Regions from separate parts of the Homo sapiens genome. Here region 2 is linked to region 1. The links come from fine-mapping of genetic effects on gene expression. A gene starts in region 1. The other region holds a variant in brackets. All regions are shown on one strand. Distances are between the middles of the regions.

Region 1 (9,332 bases):
CATAGCTGTGAATATATTAAAAACCACTGAATTATGCTTTAAATAGGTGAATTGTATATTATATAAATTATATCTCAATAAAGCTGTTTTTAAAAACTCAGCTCTGTACTCATCTCCTTTTGGAAATTTTCCCACACTCATGAATAAAAGAATTTCACTTTAAACAGTAGAGAAAAAGGAATCATTTATTTACTCATTATTAACTCATCAACAAACATCTATAGATCTATAGATCACTGTAAGAGGTCAGGTACAGTGCTGTGACGATACAAAGATGAACATGATTGGTCTTGGAGTATTCCAGTGAACACTGGAAAGTTAGTAAGCCATGCTGTCTTTACCATTTGTTCCACTTCTTCCTTCCTAGGGTTTAAGGAGAAGAAAAGGGTCTCCTAATCCTCTTCATATTTTCAACTTTGTGCAGTGAAAATCCGCAAGCTTGAGCTTCAAGTCAGTGACAAGTAAAAAAACAAACAAACAAACAAATAATGAAACAAATAATGAAAAAACAAAAATTAAAAGAAATCCACAAGCTATGGCCCTCTCAGCCACTTAACTTCTACCACATCACGCTGAATTTCATAGCAAGCCTGAAAGGTGTTTTTCTCTCTTTTGGAGCAGGAGATTTGGGGTGGGGAATGTGGAGACGTCATGCTGGGCCTGGTATGCTAATCCTCCCTAATCCAGGCCAGAGCAGAGCCATTTTCCAACCATCATTTCCAAATCCTGAATTGTGTGAGGAGGCTCAGGTGCTGCTCCAGGACACGTGAGTATGTAACCTCATACTTTTAAGCAAACATCCATTCCATGTGAGAGACTCACAGAGTAATGAAATAAGCCTTCACCCTTGCACAGCAAGAGGAAGTTTGCAAAACATTTTCACATTCACTACTCTTCAGACTTCCCATTAACCCACAGAGATCCTCTTCCACAAATGAAGAAGGTGAAACTCATGGAGGTAAAGTGAAATGCTCAAGCTAATCTCCATAGCTAATCGATGATAGAACTTAAATATACAGCTGTCTTCTGATATTAAGTCCAATGTTCCCTGCACTCCATTGCCTCTAAATGCCAATTCTATTTTCTTTTGGAAATGGAGTCTTGCTCTGTCGCCCAGGCTGGAGTGCAGTGGTGTGATCTCAGCTCACTGAAACCTTTGCCCACAAAGTTCAAGCAATTCTCATGCCTCAGCCTCCTGAGTAGCTGGGATTACAGGCGCGCACTACCATGTCCAGCTAATTTTTGTATTTTTAGTAGCAACAGGGTTTTGCCATGTTGGCTAGGCTGGTCTCGAACTCCTGGCCTCAAATGATCTGCCTCCTCAGCCTCCCAAAGTGCTGGGATTACAGGCATGAGCTACCACACCCCGCCACCAATTCCTTCTCAGGCCACTTGGTGGTATCTACGAGCACCTATTCACTTGATTGCTGCTTTTCTTGGAAGGAAGCCTTTCATCTTCGAGGCCTAAAAATGATGGGGCTTTGTTTTACACACAATCCAAATAGATTCCAACAGAAGGCAGTATAACAGTAGCTAAGAGTAGATGTGAGTCACACGAATTTGAATTTGAATCCAGAGTCTGCCTTTTCAGATACATATGTTCTTGTTTTTTGTTGGTGGTGGTTTTTTTTTTTTTTTTTTTTTTTTGGAAACGGAGTCTCACTCTGTTGCCCAGGCTGGAGTGCAGTGGCGAGATCTCGGCTCACTGCAACCTCCACCTCCTAGGTTCAAGCAATTCTCCTGCCTCAGCCTCCCGAGTAGCTGGGACTACAGGTGTCCACCACCACACCTGGCTAATTTTTGTATTTTTAGTAGAGACGGTGTTTCTCCGTGTTGCCCAAGTTGGTGGCTAACTCCTGAGCTCAGGCAATCTGCCTGCCTCATCCTCCCAAAGTGCTAGGATTACAGGCGTGAGCCACTGCGCCCGGCTGATACATAGGTTCTTCTAATCCAAAAGTCACCACTTAAAATAACTGCCTGAACTACATCTAGATGAAAATCCTGCCAAATTTTAAGGATATGTCCCCAAATCCAACAAAATGAAGGTTCCACTACACACATAGACAACTCTCGAAACCAGGAATACCTTCCTAAATCTAACCAAATCTACTGTCATCCCCATCCTAGCCAGCAATGCAAGATTTTTTTCTTCATACACACAAAGACACACACACACACACACACACACACACACACACGCACGTAACATTTTAAGCGTTGGGGGTGGGGGTCTCACCATGGCTGAAATGCAGTGGTTATTCACAGGCACCATTATAGCCTACTAAAGCCTTGAACTCTTGGGCTCATGTGATCCTCACACCACAACCCAAGTAGCTGGGAATACAGGCCATGCCATTGCACCCGGCTCTTTTTACCATATTTTGTCCTCAGTATATATGGCAGAATCTCAAGATCAAAAGAAGGTCTCTTTTAGTTTCTTTTACATTGGAGGGAAAAGCCGACAAGCCATGACAAACTACTTTATTTATTTATTCATTTAAGATGAAGTTTCGCTCTTGTTGCCCAGGCTGGAGTGCAATGGCGCGATCTTGGCTCACTGCAACCTCCACCTCCCGGGTTCAAGCAATTCTCCCGCCTTGGCCTCCCGAGTAGCTGGGATTACAGGCACCCGCTACTACACCTGGCTAATTTTTTGTATTTTTAGTAGAGACAGGGTTTCACCATGTTGGCCAAGCTGGTCTCGAACTCCTGACCTCAGGTGACCCTCCCGCCTCACCTCAGGTGACCCTCCCGCCTCAGCCTCCCAAAGTGCTGGGATTACAGGCATTAGCCACCGCCCCTGGCCTGACAAACTACTTTAGTTCAAGGTTAGCTCCCACCAAGCTTGCCCCATTTCCCTCTACTCTGTGAAAAGGGTAGCAGGATGAAGTACCAAACAGAAAGAACTTCTATCCCCAGCGTCCACAAAAATCCACGGAACAAAGCTCTGTATCTGCACCTGCTGAGAGAACCATGCTCAGTTGTTGCAAACAGAAAAGATAAACTCTGGAAGGCCCAAAATGCCCATCTTCTGCATAACGGATCCTACTCCTCAGTCCCCACCCCGCAAAGACACATGGCTCATCCTGTTTCTCCTGCCATTCTTCATATTGTTCCCTTCAGCCAGTCTTATGCACCCAACCTCATTCTTTTCCTGCTGTTTTCTACTACCCATCTGTATTTGTCATGGTGTCAGCCTCTTCCTTCAAGAAGTCTTCCTCTACTTCTCCAGAACTCTCTCTTTTCTAGTACAATCAGTACCACACAGCACAGTATGTTTTCCAATGGCTCCCACAGGTCTTCAATTTTTTTTTTTTTTTTTGAGACAGAGTCTCACTCTGTGGCCCAGGCTGGAGTGCAGTGGCACAGTCTTGGCTCACTGCAGCCCCTGTACCCAGGTTCAAGCGATTCTCTTGCCTCAGCCTCCCAAGTAGTTGGGATTACAGGAGCCTGCCACTACACCCAGCTAATTTTTGTACTTTTAACAGAAATGGAGTTTCGCCATGTTGGCCAGGGTGGTCTCGAACTCCTGACCTCAAGTGATCCACACGCTTCGGCCTCCCAAAGTGCTGGGATTACAGGTGTGAGCCACTGTGCCCAGGTGTTCATTTCTTATACAAGCCTCCCCTCATCTTCCTTCTCAGCCTCTACAACCCCTTACTCTACCTATCCTTCCCCCACACCCTCCTCAACATCACCACTATTAGCTGTTACTAGACTGAGCTCACAGAAATATTCAGTAAGTACTTACTGAATTGAAATCAATGTAATTGAACAGATTTGGAGAAGGAATTCCAGGGAAAGTGATCAATGACTCAGTTGCTCCGCACAAGAACACAAATCCATTAAGAGACAGGACCCTAAAGTCTCAAAGTAAATATGTAGGATTCGTGGTACCGATGAACAAGTGAGGACTCCCTGCCCTCCACCAGGCAAGGGGCTTGGCTCAGACACAACTTCCTGAAGCAGCAGTCCTGACCAGGGCTGTGTAGAGCTGCTCTAGGGCGCCCTGCAGCAATTCTCTACGTGAGGGAAGCTCAACCTTCTCCCATTACCCAGATGCCACATTGACCTAGGCAAAAAACTAGCTGGTACAAACCACAGTCTTGTAGGTATCGATGTCTAAAGACTCTGATATGGTAGGAAATGTGACTCACTCAATGTCAATATTTCACTTCCACACAAGTGAGCCAGTTAAGGCAATCCGGTGTGGCCAAACATAAAATAAGATTGAAACGGAGTCCTGAAATATAAACCACTTAACTGTTCTCTGGCCTTTTACTATCTCCTTCTGTAGAAAGGGAGCCATAGTAATACCTACCTCAGAGAGTTTGCGTAGGGATGAAATCTGGAGGTACATGAAGTGCGCAACATAGTGGCCCGCACATGGTAAGGGCTCAATAACTATTAGCTGTTATTATTTTTATTATTTATTTCGCTGCGAGGATCAAGGGAGATGGAATGCAGCGTAAAGCCCCACGTAAACGTGTCGTGCAACATGAAGCCCCTCACCCTGAGTTGGGGAGCGGGTGGCACGCGTGGAAGCTGAATGCCACCATCCCTGGGACCAGGCGCAGCGCCCTCCAGAAGCGCCTCTGGTGACGGGCTCCTGTTCTCCCCCAGGACGTTTCCCCCAGAATGCCCCGGGGCCCTGGACGGCTCTGGAGAGGACGGGAGGGAAGGGAAGGAGACGGGCGGAACGGGGACGTACCTGCTTTCACTGCACTCCTTCCGCTCCCTCACCCTCAGCCACTTGCGGAGGAGGAAGCGTTTTCGGCGCGGGGACGCGCTGGGTGTGGAGCAGTTGGACCACGGGGTGTCCTCGTCGCTGGAGGGCGTGATCTCGATGGACGGCAGCTGCAGGAACTCCTTGCCGGGGGCCAAGACGGCGGGCAGGTCCCGGGCCAGCCCGGCCTCCAGGCTCTGCTCCTGTACGTTCTTCATGCGGCGCATCTTGAAGCGCCGGCGGCGAAGCGTGGGGGTCGACGAACTGGACCAGACCGGGCTGCCCTCGGGCGCACCCTGCGGCTCGGGCACCTGCAGGGCGGGCAGCGGCCGGTTCTCCATCATGTTGGCCGCCGGCATGGGGGCCGTCGCCTCTGCGCTCCCCCTGAGCCCTCCGCCAGCGGCCTGGTTCGCGTCTCCCTCTGGCTGTTCCCCACCCTCGGCCCCGCGGCACACTCCCCAATCCTGGGGCCGAAGGAACAAGTTCCTTTCCCGGAGCGCAGCGAGGAAGGGACGCGAGGGGACGCGGCGTAGCGCGCCGCCGCCCGGAGTCTAACTTTTCGGAGCGCGCGTCCTCCGGGCCGTCAGCCGCCGGCGAGGCCACCCGGGAGGGGCGGGAGCCGCCTGCCAGCCACTCGGCAGCCCTCCTGGGGCTCCCCTCGCGCGCCCGCTTGTTTTTCTTCCGCTGCGCTTCCTCGCTTGCTGGCGTCTTTGCCTTAGCGGGACTCGGCAGCCAGGGGCCCCAGGGGGCGGTGCAGCAAACTCTCAGCGGTTTGCGTTCAGCAGACCAGGTTGGGGAGCCGGCTTGGCGCTGCAGGGAGGTAGAGAGCGGGAGGAAGAGGCAGTGGTAGGAGGGAAAGGGAGAGAGAGACAGAGAGAGAGAGAGAGAGAGGAAGCGAGACACTGGATAAAAACAAAAAAGGAGGAGGAGGAGCGGGGGCTGGGGGCGGGGTGAGGGGGGCTATCCTGAATGGGCTAGCACTGGCAGCGACCGCTAGTGTAACTGTACACGGATTCCCTCGGGGAGGGACTCGACCTCCAAGTAAAGGCTGCTCCAATCAGCCTACTGAAATAGGATCACAAACCAAACTTTCTCAGGGCAACGATTGGCCAGGCAACTCCCATTAGTCGAACTCGGCTATTTCCTTGGGGGTGGGGGGTGCAGAGAAAGGGGAGTCAATGAATTCAGTCCTCACTCTCTCAGGCCACCCATGATACAGGGTTGAAGGAAAATGAGGAGACTTTTCAACTAGCTCTTGTCTCCTAAGAAAGGCAGTTTAAATTATTTGGGGGCGTGAGTAGTGGCACTGCAGGCCGGAGTATAGTCAGAGGAGGAAAGCAAGGTTGCTGGAGGCTGCTTCCAAAATGACAAGCTGAGAAGAGGACAGTTCTCCCGTGGCGGCGTGAGCTGAGGATACCAGACATGACATACCAAGGAAAGACAGACAACAGGGTCTGAGAGACAAAGGACACAGGACCAGTAAGGAAAATGGGGCCTGAACCCTGTACATGAGCCAGCTGCCAGTACCATAGCCGCGTCCCTAGCAAAGAATGAAATGAGGAGTCGGTGAGCACCCACAAAGCAATGCATCCAACAGAGCCCCAGGGAGTCGAGGGTACCCCCCCTTACATTGCTGAGGGCTGATTCAGTTCTGCTTCAGCCTGCCATGGACTGAGTCACAGAATCCAGTATGTCCCCATGTCATGGAACCTAGGAAGTCTGGTTCAGTCCTGGTAGCATCCCAAGATGTGCTGAACCACACTCACTCTCTAGACCCAGGCCCTAAGAGATCATCAACCCTAGAACCGATCCATCCTATTTAGGTGCTCTCTGTGGGCACTGAGTCTAACCCAGCCCAGCTCCTAGAGCAGGGCTGTAGCAGCCATTCTCCTCCTTCAACCCCAGCCCAATGCATTTGTCTCTTGGGTCAGTAACTGTTTTGTTTTGTTTTGTTTTTAAGAGACAAAGTCTCACTCTGTTGCCCAGGCTGGAGTGCAGTGGTGCAGTCATGGCTCACCGCAACCTTGAATTCCTGGGCTCAAGCTGTCCTCCCAGCTGAGCCTCCTGAGTAGCTGGGAGTACAGGTGCGCACCACCACACGCAGCTAAGTTTTATTTCTTTTTGTCGATATGAGGTCTTGCTATATTGCCCAGGCTGGTCTCAAACTCCTGGCCTCAAGTGATCTGCCCACCTTGGCCTCCCAAAGTGCTGAGATTACAGGCATGAGCCACCATGCCCAGCCTGGTCAGTAACTTTCAAAGAGATCATGAGAAGCACCCAAGAACATACCATGAAGTCCACAATCTGATCCACCCTTCTTTTCTGCCTCTCTCAGAGTCCAGTTTCCATCTGGGAGCCAATGCCCAGCTTCCGTGCCAGGACAAAAGTCACATTTCACAAGTGTCCCGAAGCTGAGGAAAATTCACATCCCTAAAGATCACAAGAATTCACTGCAAGTAAATACATCCCTGCAGTTCAGCAAGACATCAAGGATGACAGCTGGCTATGGATCTACCAAGCTCTGCAATGACACTTGTCAAGTATGGAAAAGCTCAAGGCATCCTGACATTACACAACTTTTGAGAGGCTGGGAAACCAAGGGAAATATTTCTTCCTCAGGGAGAGAGATACTGCGGCTGAAGAGCCAAGGCCAGGCCCTCCCATAAATGACTCCCTGGAATGTCAGCCCCCGTTTCTGAAATCCAGCCACTGGCCCTCTCAGGAGTGATTTGGTTTCACTCTACTTTAACTCCTGGACATAGCACAGAAAGCAGAAACCCCTTGCCATCAGGTGTCAGGCCTGCCAAGGTCACCTCTTCCGGCTCCAGGGATGCTGAGGAGATTGCACTGTAACTCCAAACTTCAGGATCGGGAGCTAAGCCAAGTTCCACAGAGTTTGTTCACTGCCTTGTACTTCCTCCAAGGACGAGTGTTTTGCAAGGGATCTGATAACTTCCCAGTTCAAGGAACCTGAGTTTTGGGCGGGCTCTTGACATAGAAGATGAGGGTCTCAGGGGCTTATGGGAAGAAAGGAAGCCAGGACACCACCATTCGCTTGGAGGCCAAAAACACAAAAGGATGGTCCACAAGACAGGGGCCAGAAGATTCTATGGGCAGCTTGGGAAGAGGGAGAAGAAACAAGGGAGGAAGCTTTAAGTTTGTTCTGGGCACTCTGAATTTAAGTGTATACCTCTTACAAGGAAGAAAAGCCACCAGCACCCTCTTCCCACACACTTCAGCCACTTTTCCCACTCACAGTAGATTCTGGAACTGAAATCCTGTGAGATTTAATTCAAGCCTTGGGCACAGCAGTGGCTAAGAGTGATCATTTACATTTCACCCGGCCTGAGGGAAAACCTCCAAGCAGGAATCTAAAATGTTTCACTTGATTGGGAAGCAGATACCCTGAGCTCTCTTAGCCTGAACGCTGTCCTTACTCACTTGCACCTGCAGTCCCTTCTTTTTTTCAAGCCATAACCCTTTTGACCGTTAAAACCCTGTTCAAAACACATCCTTCAGCCCTTTCCAGCTGTTTCTGTTGCCCATGGCTCTGGCAAGTAAGATAATAAATGAGGCACTGCTTTGAAATATGAAATGCCCTACAGCTGTGAGCCAACATTACTGTTAAGACTATAAGCTCCTTGAGAAAAGAATCAAGTTTCTCCTTCCTTTAATTCTCTCCAGTATCCTGTGCTTGTTATGTGTATGGTGACCTTTACACTTTTGGAAAGAGCTTTCATACATCACACTGTGTCTTCCCAGCGGCCTTTACAATTGATGAAAGTGGGACAGAGAGATTCAGTAGTTTATCCAAGGTCACAGATAAATGATGATGGCTAATCAATGACAAGGCCAGAATTGGAACTCATGCCTTCTGAAGCCAGTTTAGAGGCCTCCAAAAGTGTAGAGAAACAATTTCTCAAAGTAGCTGGTGCCAACATCAGAACCAAAGAGTTTTCATGCCCTGCGTCAGAATCTCAGCGATTGCACTTGCTCCCCAAGTCTCCCCACTCCCATATTTCTTCTCTCCAATATTTGGCTCTCAGCGACCGCACAGTTCTCTGTGAAACAGACCTCACCTTTGCCCCCATTCCCCGCTTCCCCAGACAGGTGGTAACCAGAACAACCCAGCCTCCCCTTTCCCCACCTGCAGCCAGGCCTCTGACTTTAAATGAAAGGAGGTCATATTACCAAGCAACTGTTGTTTATTCTCAGCTGCACAAGCTCCCTTTTCCTACAGACACAAGACACCCAACACCTGTCTATTACTTCTGGAGACTCATAAACTACTATTATTATTCAATTTCCAGGGGAAAACTTTAGTGAAACATAGTAGCTTCCAGACTAGATTTCTCCTGGGTACACATCCAAGTAAATGTGAACTGGAAGGCGCTGGCACCCCGGACACCTTATTGCACCTGCTCCAGGATGCCAAGGCAGGGAACTCCCAAAGACACAGGAATGTCTCCCCACAACACTGTTGTTGCAAGACAGACAATCCCCACTCTCAACACTGGGACACAGAGTCTCTCCCCTACACAACATTCGAACGGCCAATCCCAACGGTTGGCCCATTATGAGGGAAAGAAGCAGGCAGTGAGCATAG
Region 2 (9,332 bases), 29 kb before region 1:
TCCCACACCCTCACTTCTCCCCAACAACTTCCATCTGCCTTCCTTAGCTCAGTCACCTGCATCACCATCCCTCCACTTAGCTGTACAAACAAGGAAACACAGAAATAGTTCCAGCAGTTCTCTCTCCTCCACTCCCTACCTTCGATCTATCACTGAGTTATATTAGCTCCCACCTTTGAAACATCTTTTATATCCATCCTCTCCTCTCTATTCCTATTATCCTTGCTCTAGTCCAAATATCAGTACCACCTTGGCTGCATAAGAATCACCTGGAAACTTTTTAAGAAAAGAAAAAGGTTCCCATTCCCTCATTGATCCTGGATTCTGATTCAGGGGGCCTGGGTTGGAGCCTGAAGGAGTTTTAACAGGCATCTCAGGTTTGAAAACTACTGACATCCCACTCTATTGAAACGGTCCTTTATCTGTGCTGACAAATGTTTAACAACTAGATTGGTGGAGGGGGCTGATTTATATTATTTGCCAATTTCTGCCATGTATACTCCCACCATGATTGATTTCTGCTATCGGTGAAATTGGCATTGGGAAATGATATGCACAATCGGCGTCTACAAGTGGATGCCAGCTGGCCCCAGCATGCTAATGTGCCTAGATGTTATTATTATTATTATCATTATTACTATTTTAGAGGCCAAGTCTTGCTAGCTCTGTCTCCCAGGCTGGGGTGCAGTGGCATGAACATGGCTCACTGCAGTCTTCAACTCCCAGGCTCAAGCAATCCTTCCACCCCAGCCTGCCGAGTAGCTGGGACCACAGGTGTGCACCACCACACCCAGCTAAATTTTTTTTTTTTTTTTAGAAATGGGGTCTCCCTTTGTTGCCCAGGCTGGTCTTGAGCTCCTCGGCTCAAGCGACCCTCCCACCTTGGCCTCCCAAAGTGCTGGGATTACAGGCATGGCCCACCCCTGTTATCTTCTAAAACAGCTCTAGTCAAGTCTCTTCCCAAGTTACAGTCTCTTGAAGTCTTCCTATAATGTCATAGAATACAGTCCAAAGTTTTCTGCCTGCCACACAAGGCCTTACTACATGAAACTGACTTCCCCAGCAGAAAGCTCTTCCTGAGGCCTTTACACAGTTTTCCTTTCTGGGGCTCGTGCTCCCCAAATCTCCCATGCACATTCATTCCTGCAACTTCGTGCATGTTGTGCTCTCCACTTTCTCTTCATTTCCCTTCTATATGATCCATATCTTCCACCCTGGCCTATTGGGCGCTGTGTCACACAGAGGCCTGTCCCTTCCCTTGGTGCATTCAAATATTAACTCATTGACTTTTTTCTCTGCTGACCCAGAGCTCTGTCTCCTTTGAGCCATAGGACTAATGACAAATCCAAGTTGGCACAGTTATTACCAGTGAGACGGTAGCTCTGCCCGTGTGGTGGAGAGAACCTGTTGGCTACATCAGAGAACACCTCCTTTAGTGCAAACTCTGGCTGCTTTTTTCAATTCATTCAAGATACTGCATACTAATATGTTGTATTTAATACTAGGAATAAACCTTCCCATTAAAACACTTCTTCCCCATCTACAAAGTGCTCCCATGTATATGCTTCCAACTTTTTACCCTCATCAGGTAAATAAGAAGTGTATACACTCTGATCCCCATTTTAAAGATGAAGAAAATAGGCTGGGCACGGTGGCTCATGCCTGTAATCCCAGCAATTTGGGAAGCCAAGGCGGGTGGATCACTTGGGGCCAGGAGTTGGAGACCAGCCTGGCCAACGTGGTGAAACCCCGACTCTACTGAAAATATAAAAAATTAGTCAGGCGTGGTGGTGGCCCATGCCTGTAGTTCCAGCTACTCGGGAGGCTGAGGCATGAGAATCACTTGAACCTAGGAGGCAGGGGTTGCGGTGAGCCGAGATCGCGCCATCGCACTCCAGCCTGGGTGACAAAGTGAGACTCCATCTTAAAATAAATAAATAAATATAAATAAATAATAAAGATGAAGAAAATAAGACTTCACAGGGATACATGGCACGTCTATGAGCAAACTGTGCTGGTAAGCTAAGAAACAGGGATTTCTTTTTTTTTTTTTTTTTTTTTAATTTATTTTTTTATTGATAATTCTTGGGTGTTTCTCACAGAGGGGGATTTGGCAGGGTCATGGGACAATAGTGGAGGGAAGGTCAGCAGATAAACAAGTGAACAAAGGTCTCTGGTTTTCCTAGGCAGAGGACCCTGCGGCCTTCCGCAGTGTTTGTGTCCCTGATTACTTGAGATTAGGGATTGGTGATGACTCTTAACGAGCATGCTGCCTTCAAGCATCTGAGAAACAGGGATTTCAGTTTAAGGTTTTTTGTCCCTGAATTCTTTATTCTTTCACCTTAAGCACACTCCAGTGCTGGAGCGTAGCATTCACTTGGAGAAGGGGTGGGTGGCAGGGATAACCTCACTGATGAGACTGAAGGGACTCTGAGCTTGGGCTGGGACTCAGGGGCTGAGCTGAGCTTGAATGTTCACTCTGCCACAAGTGTCAGCCGTCTCTGCTTTGCAGGTGGCAGCCCTCAGCTAGAAAGCAAGAGCATCTGGGAAGTCCAAGGCAAGTGAAAACCTTGAAACAAGAAGTAACGAGTCTGCTCTGCCCAGTTTGAGGCAGTTTGTCAGGGGATGGCACCTGCCACTGAGGTCACAAAGCCACAGGTGAAACCATAGAAATAAACAAATGACTGGCCCGGCACGGTGGCTCACACCTGTAATCCCAGCACTTTGGGAGGCCAAGGCGGGCAGATCACGAGGTCAGGAGATCGAGACCATCCTGGCTAACATGGTGAAACCTCATCTCTACTAAAAATACAGAAAAATTGGCCAGGCATGGTGGCGGGCGCCTGTGGTCCCAGCTACTCGGGAGGCTGAGGCAGGAGAATGGCGTGAACCCAGGAGGTGGACCTTGCAGTGAGCCAAGACCGTGCCACTGCACTCCAGCCTGGGCGACAGAGCAAGATCCCATTTCAAAAAAAAAAAAAAAAAGAAATAAACAAATGACCATACCAGAAAAAAAAAAAACCTGCACTTGAAAGTAGAGCTATCTTGGCCGGGCGCAGTGGCTCATGCCTGTAATCCCAGCACTTTGGGAGGCTGAGGCGGGGGTATCGCATGAGGTCAGGAGTTTGAGACCAGCCTGGCCAACATGGTGAAACCCCCGTCTCTACTAAAAATACAAAAATTAGCCGAGTGTGGTGGTGGACACCTGTAATCCCAGCTACTCGGGAGGCTAAGGCAGAAGAATCACTTGAACCCAGGAGGCAGAGGTTGCAGTGAGCCGAGATCACGCCATTGCACTGCAGCCTGGGCAACAAGAACGAAACTCTGTCTCAAAACAAAACAACAACAACAACAAAAAGTAGAGCTGTCTCAACAACCAGCTGGGGAAGAAACCATAGACAATCCAAAAAAGACAGAGCAGTGTGCCAAGGCATAGGCCAGGACTTCCCAGAGCTAGAGCCAGGGCTGGAGAGACTTCTAGGAGGCCAGTGACGTTTGGCCTGCAGCCCAAGGGGGAGTCTTTGGGAACCAGAGAGGCCAGCACCACCTCATTTAGCCACAAGGACAGGAATCACAAGGGCTCGGCCAGCTGCAGACAGAAATGCTGGTGCCCTGGGGGACTCTTAGGAAACAGTCCTGGTAGCAGTGCCAGCTTGGCTTTTCTGCCAGCTGAAGTCAACATAGCTTGATTTAGGAGCCAACCTGGAGTCAGTCGGGGCAGCTGATTCCCCAGAAAGACGACTGAACTGACAAGAACATTTTAGAAGCAGCCCAGGCAACAGGAGCACTGGTCCATTCACATCTGATTGAAGACCAAACTCAATTAAGACTCAATATGTTTTTAAGACATTTTTTATGACTATGGCTTCCCAACTGGCTATTAATTTTGCTATCACCTGTTTCCCTCTAGTCAACACAAGCCAAACCTCTTAAAAAGCCAAAAATATGTGAATTCCAAAAGGTCACGAGGTGGGAAAGACACAGAGAGCCTTGTGTTCTTCCTGGACGGCCCAGGAAAGAGGCGCCCAAGGAAAGGAGAAGCTGATGCACCTGGGAAGGCAGATGGATTCTTGGGTCCTAAAGGGACAAAGGAAACGTAGGAGCAGGGGATTCATGCAGAAACCCTATCAAAGACCAACCGCTCTAGTGACCTCGGAGCTCAAGGACAAGCAGCCCGCAAGCTGTGCTGTTTTCCAGAAAGAATCCTTTCAGCTTCCTGCCTCCCCTTCCCTGCCCCACTCCTGTCCGCCCCCCAAATCCTGCTGACCCAACCACCATCCAATTTCATTTGCCCTTAGCCCCGGGAAAAACTGGCTTATGGTAAAAGCATTATCTTGTTTTTTCCAATTGGAAGACATAAAAACAGTCCTAACCAAAAACTCTGGTCATTAACACTCACAGAGTGCCCTGGGGGGCCTGGGGAGAAATCCCCGCATTGACTGGGGCTGGAGTCACGGTGTCTAGGTGTAATTGCCACAAATCTGCCCAATCACGCTCCTGGCCTATATCCAATTAACCCTCTTCAAGTTCAGTCCCGGAACCCACTGAACTTGGACAAGAACATAAAAAGGATTTTGATGGTCCACAAAGTAGATAATTCATGTACTTTAATTCATCTACTATATTTTCTACTATATTCATCTACTATAATTCATCTGTTTCCACAATGCCATTTTCCACTCAGGATTAAACTCCATGTCTTCTCTGCCAAGCACTTTGACAGCCTTCTGATAAGCTTGTCATACCACACATGGTCACTTTTCAGTAGCATGGAGGCAACAGGTACTGGATAATTCAGGATATCGAGCAGAAGAAAACAGAAGTTGACTAATCCACAAACCATTTATTTTTAGTTTGAGAATTTTAATGAAACACACACACACGTATGTCCAATCACACTCCTGGCCTATATCCAATTAACTCTCTTCAAGTTCAGTTCTGGGACCCACTGAACTTGAAGGGACAAGGGTGAGGACAAGGACATAAAAATGGACAAGAACATAAAAAGGATGTTGATGCTCCATAAAGTAAATAATTCATTCACTCAGAAAACACTTTTTGAATGGCAATCTGTACACAGAAAACAGATGAGAGGCAAGCTTTGGGTGAGCCAGGTGTCCAGTGAGAAGGTAGCAGAACAAATTTACCTAAGACCCAGCCCTGCCCTCCAGAACCTCAGTGTGTGTTTAGGAACAGGACTTAAAGTATAAAGATAGTTGTGAATAACCAGTTCACATCATAGGGGAAGGGTCAACTAACAGGTATTTGAGTACCTAGTATATGGATTTTTTGCACACTATCTCACTTAAAAGTCAGTATTTGAAGAAAATAATATTCTTCTCTCTCTTTTTTATCAAACTCAATT[C/A]TTTTATCTTCAATTCCTTTAAATCATGAATATGGCCGACCACAGTGGTGCATGCCTGTAATCTCAACAATTTGGGAGGCCGAGGTGGGTGGATCATCTGAAGTCGGGAGTTGGAGACCAGCCTAGACAACATGGCAAAACCCCACCTCTATTAAAAATAGAAAATTAGCCAGGTATGGTGGCTCACACCTGTAATCCCAGCTACTCTGGAGGCTGAGGCAGGAGAATTGCTTGAACCCAGGAGATGGAGGTTGCAGTGAGCCCAGATCATGCCACTGCACTCTCGCCTGGGTGACAAAAGCAAAACTCCATCTCAAAAAAAAAAAAAGAAGATAAGGGTTCATGAAGATTTTCCCATGATCAGCAAATTAAAAAAAAATATATAGAAGTGTCTTATTTCTTTGCAATCAAATACCCCAATCTGCCCTAACTCCAAGGGCTGGTCACCATAACTATAACCCATCTACAATGCAGTGCATGTTCTTTGTCATCTACACAGCCTCTGCTACAACAAGCTCCTAGAAACACTTTTCCAAACTCATGGCTAGGAAGGCCATTGTGTCTGTGATTGTCTGAATATTCTGTTAACTCCGCTGTGTATTACGGTGTGCATTAAGCATTAAAGTGATTGTTCTCACTGAGCTCAGACTCAGAGTTGGGGGGAAATTACAGGAGCACAAAGGACTAGCCCCAAAAGAACCTCCACTTCAATCACCAAGCCATACCTGGAACTACCCATTTGCAGACTTGAAATTTGAAAATAACCCACCCGTATACACACTCTACATGTTGAGAGATACTTGTTCTTATCACTCAGAATGCTCCCATTCTCCTGGAATTTTTTGCCCATTACTCACATTGGGGAGTATGAAGAGGAGGGGAAAAAAAAAAAAAAACAAAACAGCCTTTCACTGTTTCCTTATCTAGGATACTGTTCATCCTATAAATCAAAAAAGGGATTTGCATCAAATTCTTTATGACCATTTTCTTCTCAGATTGATTTTAGTGAGAAGGTAATTGTGATGGTTAATTTTAGGTGTCAGTTTGACTGGATTAAAGACTACCTAGGAACCCGGTAAAGCATTATTTTTGGGCGTGTCTGTGAAGATGTTGCCAGAAGAGATCAGCATGTGAGTCTGAGTGGACTAGGTGCGGAAGATCCGCCCTCATTGTGAGTGGGCACCATCCATTCTGCTGGGGGCCTGGAAAACAAAAACTGAGAAAAGGTGAATATGTGAATGGAACTGCCAGAGTTGGATTATATTCTTCCTCTCTCTGTCCCTCAGTGGCTCTCTGAGTTCTAGGCCTTTGGCCTCAAACCGAGAGTTACAACATCAGCTTCTCTGGTTCTGAGGCCTGCAGACTTGGACTGAGCCACGCTACCAGCATCCCAGGGTCTCCGGTGTGTTGTGGGACTTCTCAGCCTCCATAATCATGTAAGCCAATTCCCCTAATCCCCTCCCCTCTCCTCTCTCTCTCTCTCAGAACTCCAACTAGGTTCTGTGTAGCATACATACGCACTTATCGTGGAGTCATGCATAAAGTGGTACTCATCTATTTAAAATATGTGGCAGCCAGGCATGGTGGCTTACGCCTGTAATCCCAACATTTTGGGAGGCCGAGGCAGGAGGATTCCTTGAGCCCAGGAGTTCAAGACCACCTTGGATAACATAGCAGGACCCTGTCTCTACAAAAAAGTGGAGAAATTAGCCAGGTGCGGTGGTGCATGCCTGTAGTCTCAGCTACTCAGAAGCTGAGGTAGGAGGATCACTTGAGCCCAGGAGGTCGTGGCTGCAGTAAGCGTGATTGCACCAGCGCACTCCAGCCCAGGCGATAGAGTGAGACCCCATCTCAAAAAACAAATACATAAAATAAAATATGTGGAAAATAGAGCACGGAGCACAGTGGAGCAATAGCACCAGAGCCAGGCTCATAAGGCTGGGTCCAGCACTGACTCTGTCATGGACTCCGTAGAACACAGAGCAAGTTGCCCCATTGTTCTGAACTTCAGTTTGCTTATCTGTAAAATGAACAGAGTGTGCTAGACAATCACATAGGCCCTGTCTAGCCTTAAAAGTCCCATGACGCTAAGCTAAGAAATCTTCCATTAAGCCTGTTTGAAGGCTAAGTGGAAGACACAAAGATTGAGAAAGAAGGGAGTTGCTGGCTATTCTAAAACACGTGAACTAAACCACGAGGGTAGGCTGACGCTGGCTGGACAGTGGGGAAAGAATAGCAGTCTAAGAACAAACGTGGTTTAGAGGCAGCTAACAGAGACACAGAAATGTGGCTTCCTGGTTCACTTCCTGTATGCTCATTTGATAAGTGTGTCCTTTAACTGTTACTCTCTTTCCAGGTTATCATTTTATAACAATCTCTAATTTTATTAATAAAATCATGAGCCGATACTTCACAGCAGGAAGGGATTCGAGGGATAAACTGTTCTAATTCTTTCTTTCTTTCTTTCTTTTTTTCTCAGAAAGGGTCTCTCTCTGTCACCCAGGTTAGAGTGCAGTGGTGCCATCACAGCTCACTGCAGCCTTGACCTCCTGGGCTTAAGCAATCCTCCCATCTCAGCCTCCCGAGTACCTGGGACCACAGGCATGAGGCATGTGCCACCACACCTAGTTCTTTCTTTCTTTTCTTTTTCTTTTTTTTTTTTTTTTTTGAGACAGAGTCTCCCTCTGTCGCCCAGGCTGGAGTACAGTGGCGCCATCTCAGCTCACAGCAACCTCTGCCTCCCAGGTTCAAGTGATTCTCCTGCCTCAGCCTCCACAGTAGCTGGGACTACAGGTGTGCACCACCACACCTGGCTAATTTTTGTATATTTAGTAGAGACGGAGTTTCATCATTTTGACCAGTCTGGTCTCAAACTCCTGACCTCAAGTGATCTGCCTGACTCAGCCTCCCAAAGTGCTGGAATTATAGGCGTGAGTCATTGCGCCTGGCCACACCTGGTTATTTTCTGTATTTTCTGTAGAGACGAGGTCTCATGACATTGCCCAGGCTGGTCTCAAATTCAGGGGCTCAAGTGATCTGCCTGCCTCAGCCTCCCAAAGTGCTGGGATTATAGGCATGCGCCACCACACTTGGCCCCAATTTTTTCTTTTTCAAACAGGAAACCAACAGCCCAAAGAAGGTAAATGACAAGTGTAAAGTCACAGAGGTATTTAGTAGCACTGCAAAGAATAAAACTCGAGTTTGCTGACTCTCGGGGCTCTTTCCACAACACCAATGCTGCCCTTAGAGAACAAGAATGTCAAACTCCTGGTGGGCAGAGAAGGCATCTGAAACTTTTTTCTTAACCCTCTGGTGCTTCTGCTGACAAGAAGGATAACTGTTAACAGTTGCTCATTCTATAAAATGGATATGCCATTGTTGAGTGTGTTGTTCTTTTTTGTTTTGTTTTGTTTTTGAGACAGTCTCTCTCTGTCGCCCAGGCTGGAGTACAGTGGTGCAATCTTGGCTCACTGCAACCTCCCTCCACCTCCCTGGTTCAAGCGATTCTCGTGCCTCAGGCTTCCGAGTAGCTGGGATTACAGGTGTGTGCCACCACACCCAGCTAATTTTTTGTATTTTTAGTAGAGACAGGATTTCACCATGTTGGTCAGGCTGGTCTCGAACTCCTGACCTCAAATGATCCGCCCACCTTGGCCTCCCAAAGTGCTGGGACTACAGGAGCGAGCCACCCCACCCGGCCTGGTTGAGTGTTTTCTATATGCCAGGCTGTTTTCTAACCACTGGGAACACAGTAATAAACAGATGGGGCAAAGGTCCCTGCTCTCAAGGACCTCAAATTCTTATGGTTTAGCAGAAGGGATGCAGAAATGAGAGACAGATCATCAACAGAGAAAAATAAAAGAAGATGATAATTTCAGAAGTACAAAGTGTTATAAAGACAATAAAGCTGAAGAATGTAGCCTCAAAAAAGCTAAAAAATATGTTAAGGGCAGAGAGTAAGTGGCAG

Evidence for each region. PIP is the estimated chance that this variant, and not a neighbour inherited with it, causes the effect.
Region 2: its variant is fine-mapped to the expression of GRAMD1B in whole blood (INTERVAL, PIP 0.98).

The regions. Positions count from the first base shown.
Region 1 is chr11:123,426,546-123,435,877 of GRCh38, reverse strand. GRAMD1B (GRAM domain containing 1B) reads right to left here and starts at 5,609. Exons shown (of 20, transcript NM_001387025.1): 1 at 4,712-5,609. The coding sequence starts at 5,085. It overlaps LOC124902776 (a long non-coding RNA gene), which reads left to right and starts at 4,664. Exons shown (of 2, transcript XR_007062928.1): 1 at 4,664-4,931; 2 at 7,062-9,332. RefSeq lists silencers at 4,982-5,031, 5,142-5,471.
Region 2 is chr11:123,455,621-123,464,952 of GRCh38, reverse strand. The region is part of intron 1 of GRAMD1B (GRAM domain containing 1B); the gene reads right to left. Among named protein-coding and RNA genes, the nearest start is that of GRAMD1B, 30 kb to the right of the region's middle. The variant C/A (reference allele first, on the strand shown) is at 5,366.